Linked DNA regions of Homo sapiens. The protein of the gene in region 2 purifies or fractionates together with the protein of the main gene of each other region. This does not show direct contact. Each region holds a gene or a part of one and is shown on either strand. Other genes may lie near its edges.

What was found. The genes of interacting proteins can lie anywhere in the genome.
Region 1: the proteins of PSKH1 (region 2) and LTV1 purify together in Homo sapiens (affinity purification with mass spectrometry; one large-scale study listed by BioGRID and IntAct). This does not show direct contact.

The regions. Positions count from the first base shown.
Region 1 is NC_000006.12:143,856,713-143,860,364, reverse strand, and holds part of LTV1 (protein LTV1 homolog), read right to left. Parts: intron 3,063-3,652; coding exon 2,921-3,062; exon of another isoform or gene 2,784-2,920; coding exon of another isoform or gene 2,782-2,783; intron 2,614-2,781; coding exon 2,358-2,613; intron 1-2,357. UniProt on the Homo sapiens protein: Essential for ribosome biogenesis.
Region 2 is NC_000016.10:67,924,148-67,927,260, reverse strand, and holds part of PSKH1 (serine/threonine-protein kinase H1), read right to left. Parts: intron 1-3,113. UniProt on the Homo sapiens protein: Serine/threonine protein kinase that may be involved in the regulation of pre-mRNA processing.

The DNA.
Region 1 (3,652 bases), on a different chromosome or scaffold from region 2:
TTAAAAATTTTTTTACATTAACTTTATTCTTACACAATAGTTATTCAGGTACTATCACAATTACCATTAAAATATCAGTAGGGATTTAATGCAACAATAGGATGTGGAAGATATTTCTGCTCAGTACTTTAAGACTTACATTTAGCCTAAAAATAGGCTTCCATTTAACATGTAAATGAAAGGCATTATTCCACTCAGCTTGGAGAACAAAATGCTAGGCAGCACAGATTACGTCAGAACATTTTTGAAGATACTTTTTCTTTTTTTTAAGTATCTCACTGTCTCCCAGCCTGGAGTACAGTGGCGTGATCATAGTTCACTGCAGCCTCAAACTCTCAGGCTCAAGCAATCTTCCCACCTCAGCCTCTCAAGCAGCTGGGACCACAGGCACATGCCACCATACCAGGCCATTTTATTTATTTTTTTAAATAGAAACAGGGTCTGCACTGCCCAAGACAGTCTCAAACTCCTAGGCTCAAGTGATCCATCTGCTTCGGCCTCCCACAGTTCTGAGATTATAGGCACGAGACACTACGCCTAGACTAAAGATATTTTCATATTCCTTAGTTATGCAAACTAAAAGATTGTGCAACTGAAAATTCACCTACTAATGTATATATTTGTTCTTGTTTAGACAATAATTACTATATTATGCAAATGGTGTTGACACTGTTAAGCTTTGACAAAGAGTAAATGGGGGGGATATATCTCCTGAAGAGTGAGATTTGTAGCAACAGTTTGTTTCTCCCTCAAGAGAAGAGGGAAAATAGTATTAGGTGAGAAGGTAGCAAGGTAACAGCCTTTATTTTAGATTCACCTGGATGGCAACTATTCCTTCATTCATTTATCATTTATGGAACACTTTAAACTTCTATTACATGCCAAGACACCATTTTAGGCTTTTGGATGTATCCGTGAGCAAAATACAAAGAACTCTCTGCCCTTGGGGAATTCACATTCTAATCTGAGACAAATCTATATATAACATACATAATAAAGCACAACATTAGAGATGATGTTAGGAGGTGTTATGTGCTACAGAACAAACAACAGGATAGGTGGGATTAAAAACCTGTATAAACAGTCTATAGGTTGGGATTATAAACCCTGGAGCTAATCTGTTACAACAGAACCAAATAGAGTATATGAAAATACAAGCTTTCAAAAGTGTCTTATACTCTACTTCCATTCTATTCCTCAGTGTTAGTTATGTCTGAAAACACCAGATGAGAAACGGAAAGAAATGGAATTTTGATGTGCTCAATCAGGCCAATACTTCAGAAATATAGCATCTTATGGATTACTGTTGGAGAAATTCAGAATCAGGATGTCAGAATTCAAGGGGGAAAATAAGAACGTTTGATCAGCCAACTCCTTTTGACCTACACACGTTCTTTCCAGAATCAAAACTAGGGTGACTGGCCTCATAGAATATGTAAAGGGAAAACGACAATAACTAAGGTGCTTTTATGCTCTGTTTTAATAAAGAGATACGCTGTTTTCAACACTCAAAAGTTTTAGCTTTGGGTCCCAATCTCTCTTTTTAAAAAATAAAAAAAGAAAAATAACAAAAAAAAACAAGGCACACAGCAAGGCGCCTAACATCTACTTAGCTCGCGGGCGGATCAGCTGACTTGGCCAGAGGATGTTCCAGTTTCCAGATCAACCTCAACCCGCTCGGCTTCGTCAAGGTCCTTGAGTGGACTGCTTCTATCTTTAGAGTCACCTTGAAGGAAACTATTCCTTCATTCATTTATCATTTATGGAACACTTTAAACTTCTACTACATGCCAAGACACCATTTTAGGCTTTCAGATGTATCGTGAGCAAAATATAAAAAACTCTCTGCCCTTGGGGGATTCACATTCTAATCTGAGACAAATCCATATATGACATACATAATAAAGAAGCACAACATTAGAGATGGTGAGGGTTTAAGGGCCACTTCTGGGGGTTTTAAGGGCCAAATAGAAACTCAAGTGAGTTGTCCTACCACAGTTAGTGAGAATAAAACTATTACAGCTACTTTTGGTTACCCATTCAGGTTGAATGAGGCATCATTTGAGCCACCTCCTGGTGTAAGCGTGTGATGTAAATTGGAAAAGTCACATCCTCCTAACCAATTACTCTTCTTCTGCACAGTTCTATGCTCCCTTTGCAGTCTTTGTGCTCCTGTACTGCACTGATACCCTTCTGCTTTATGCTGGCTACACGAACCTATAGCTGGATAGTTGTAAACTTCCTATGATTGACTTTGTGGTTGGTGAGCACTTCAACCTGGGCTAAAGCTGACAGGTATTAAAAAAAAAAATTTAACATAAGATAGTACTAAAGCATCCCTTATGTGGGGACCTTACCTTCTCAAACCTCTCATCATGTAGGGTCAGCTGTTCATTTCTCCTCATGACTGAGGAAGTCATCGAATACTCCGTGAAGCGACTCTTTGTTTCCTCACTCCAGAACAAGTGATCTGCTATAGCTCTGTGAGTTTTTCCGGGCACAGACATACAGTCTTCATCTGACAATAGGCCTGCAGAGTCATAGTCATCATTGCTATCTCCCTTCTCATCATCCACATCTTCCCACTCGCTGTCATCTTCATTCTCAGATTTCCTAAAGTAAAGGTCATAAATTACCTACCAAAACAACTTAAAAAGTAACAGAACAAAACCACTTTACACAAGTAAAATTGGAAGGTATTTCAGGAAGGGTTCTTGTCTAGGCAGGAAGAGTGAGGGTGTTTGATCAATCTGGTTTGGTAGGAAAAGCAATGAATCTCACATTTTCTGCTCTAAAATACAGAAGTCTCAGATTAAATGCTCTTGAAGGTCTCTTCCAACTGTAACGTTCTATGGTTACCATCCCACTGAAGCAGTAACACTTAGGTCATCATCTCTGCTTTGAAACAAACCACACATACTGTATATCCATTCCCTCTTCCTCTCCTGTTGCCTTATTGGCCTGAAGAATAAAGTCATCCTCAAGCAGATTATCTGGATCATCAAAGTCAAAATCATCATCAAGAGCTGCAACAATGTCAGGATCAAAATCCAGTCGAGGTCCTAGAAGGAAAACAAAAATTAAGCAGTAATTCCCAAGATAGCAACAATTCATTCACTTAACTCACAATATAAGGACCTATGATAGCAAGAGTCTATTAATATATTGAGGATAAAAGAACGATTAAGAACTAAGTTCAGTCTAGTGAAGAATAAAGAATGAACACTCCAAGACAAAAAAAGGAAACAAAATGCTGCCTCAGCCCCAGTCAGGACCTTATAAATAAAACTCCCATCTTCCTGGGACAGAGCACCTGGGGGAAGGGGCGGCTGTGGGCACAGCTTCAGCAGACTCAAACGTTCCTGCCTGCCGGCTCTGAAGAGAGCAGCGGATCTCCCGGCACAGTGCTCAAGCTCTGCTAAGGGACAGACTGCCTCCTCAAGTGGGTCCCTGACCCCTGTGCCTCCTGCCTAGGAGACACCTCCCATCAGGGGTCAATAGACACCTCATAGAGGAGAGCTCTGGTTGGCATCTGGCGGGTACCCCTCTGGGACAAAGCTTCCAGAGGAAGGAACAAGCAGCAATCTTTGCTGTTCTGCAGCCTCTGCTGGTGATACCCAGGCAAACAGGGACTGGACTGGACCTCCAGCAA
Region 2 (3,113 bases):
CCACTACTCAGCAACCCTCCCCTTTCCAGAGAGAGGTGCTGCCCCTCCTCTCATGTAGCACTTGGGGCCTCCCCGCCCAACGCTGGCTCAGGCTGAACAAGGGCTGCTCTCCAGGTGATGGAGTCTGGCAAGGAAGGAAAGGACCTGTGCACTCTCCCAGGGAGCAAATTCTATGGTGCACTGGACCCAAAGCCTGGCTCAGGGAGATGGCCTCTGCCAAGACCCCCCCGAACTTGTCCCAGGAGTATCATAACTCAGGGGACTGTTAGAGAATGATTCAAACTTTCCCACCACATCCTAAGTCAGATTGAAGCTCCAATCTCTGGATGACCAGGATCAGGCTACTTAAAGGGGAACTTCCTAGTCCTTACAGAGAAGATCCAACCTCTCTCCAACTGCCGAAGCAGTGGCAGAAGACCACTGCTCCCTGCCTCTGCCTCCCGGCATGGGGAGGAAAGGAAACAATTCAAGGCAACTAGATTTCCCAGTCGGCTGAGGGCAGGCGATCCCGGGACCAGGAAGGAACCAGGACCCTTCTCAGTGGCACCCTCTGGCCCGCATTACTTCTCTAAGCCACAAAGGGCTCCTGGCAGTGCTGTGCGCCAGCCTCATTTTAGTACATTCTGTCCCCTGGGAGGAACTCCATAAAGCCCACTCTGCCACATGCACCCCGGGCTGCCTCATCTCAGCCCCGAACCCAGCAGCTGTCTGTCTCAGGGCCTCAGGTTGTACGGCTGTCTTCACCTGACTGGATCCTCAGGTTCTCAGGGTAAAGGACACTTGCTCAGACTCCCTCTTAGCCCCCAGTGCTTCCAGCAATTATTCCAGCTGTAACGTGAGACTGCAATTTCATGTTCGTTTAGTATTCCCATGAGATCATGCTGAGCTGGATGAGCCCGTGCCTGGTGCTGCGCATACAGGAAGCACTCAGTAGGCACAGGCTCAGACAGTAAACAACCCACGGTGCTGCCGGATGGGTGCCCTTTCCTGGAGCTGCTTCCAGGCCTTGGGGCTCAGCCAGGTGAGTCCTTGCGTCCCTGCATCTCCTAGGAACACTTCTGGCACGGGCTCTGAGGCTCCCCCAAGGATAGGCAGCTAGGACCTTTCCTGAGCCTGCTGCAGATGACTCAACAGGGATGCTAACGATCCCCTCACTTTCCTTCCTGCCAGGTGAGGTCTGCCTGTTCCACCCATGGTACCCTTCACCACCCATGGTACCCTTCACCTTGAGGAACCCCTGAACATGCCCTCCAGGGGGTTCAGGAGGATCTGAGAGACCACCTTCAGGGCAGGTGCACAGCCATCTAGCAGACACACACACTCACTGACTACTGCTACTCCCAGTCTGGCTCGCCTGACCTCCAACTCTTTCCCTACCCCCTTCCCCACTGCCACAGAGGGATGAGGCAGGGAGAACACGCTTCCACCGTCCTGAGGAAGGCCTGGGGCTACCTGCAGCTGCTGTCTTCACCCACTCTTTGGAAGGTTATTCCAAGTTTTACTGAGCTGAAGTGGGAGCAACAGGGGAACCATATTCCCAAACACACCTAACAGGGTCATCCTCATCAGTGGGCCAGCAGCACCCAGTGACTCCTGGGGAGATGCTGGCCCCCAGGAGGAGGAAAGTCAGGGTCCAGGAGCATGCAGCCAACGAAGGCCCATAGATGCCTTACTATCCAAGGGCTGTGGGTGGGCGCAGAGAGCAACAGCCCTCCCCGACAGGCAGGTAAGTCTCCTGGGGGCTTGTGTAGTTCAAGATTCATATTGAGGGCCAGGCGTGGTGGCTCATGCCTGTAATCCCAGCACTTTGGGAGGCTGAGGCAGGTGGATCACAAGGTCATGAGATCAAGACCATCCTGGCCAACATGGTGAAACCCCGTCTCTACTAAAAATACAAAAATTAGTCGGGCGTGGTGGCGTGCCTGTAGTCCCAGCTACTCAGGAAGCTGAGGCAGGAGAATTGCTTGAACCTGAGAGGCGGAGGTTGCAGTGAGCCAAGATCGCACCACTGCACTCCAGCCTGGCAACAGAGCGAGACTCCGTCTCAAAAAAAAAAAAAAAATATTCATATTGAGGTATTAAGGCCAATATGCAGGGCAACTGGACTAGACAGCTGCCACAATAGCTTTTGGATCACAGCTCAAGAAAACCCCAAAAGCCAGGAGCAGTGGCTTCCGCCTATAATCCCAACACTCTGGGAGTCTGAGGCAGGAGGACTGCTTGAGCCCAAGAGTTCAAGATCACCCTGGGAAAGATGGTAAGACTCCGCCTCAAAGAAAAAAAAAAATTAATAAATTTTTTTTTAAAAAAGAAAGCTCCATGGTTGCCTCCTGAACACAAGGAACCACTACTGGGGGCAGCCAGTCCAGACCACAGACATTCACTGTAGCCCCCATCACCCACCGGAGAGACAGAAAGAAGCTTGATGGAGACAGCACACACACAGCTGAACAGAGTGGGTCAGGGGACACCTCTGCTGCCTGCTGGCCTTCTACAGTCTCCAGGAAGAGGAGGACTCACTAGGAAGCAGGCTGCAGCTCAGTCTGGCCTGTTGCTGGAACAGCCCCAAGACAGGGCTGACAGCCCAGGGTGTCCCAACAGGGCTGGGAAATGGATTCTGCCCCTGCCCCTTGGTCCAGCCAAGACAAAAGAGGGGCAACTCCCCTACAGAGGCCAGGAGCCTGAACATGGATGGACTGGAGGTTTCACCACTTCACATCCACACCCAGCGAAACCGTGGACCTGAAACTCCAAACCAGTCACCAGTGCAGTCTTGGAGGGGCCTCTCCCCAGACCAGCCCTATGGTCTTAAGTGTCTCCATCTTCAGAGTGGCACAGGCTCACACCAGCAGGCATCAACCCCTGCTGCTCATGGAGCGGCCGGCCTGTTAGTGCCAAAGCGAGCCAGATTGATCCCTCTCCCCGCTGCTCCCCAAGATTCTCGCCTCACCAATTACTGTGGGCATGTGGCTGTGCGCAGAATGCAGATGGACTCATTTGTCTGAGGGCTGGCCTGGCCTCTCTGGCAGGTCCCAGCTCTTCCCATCTTTGAAGAGCTGTGAGCAGCTAGGCCAGGTGGGTCCCCCAAGCCAAAGTGACTCAAGTCGTCCTGA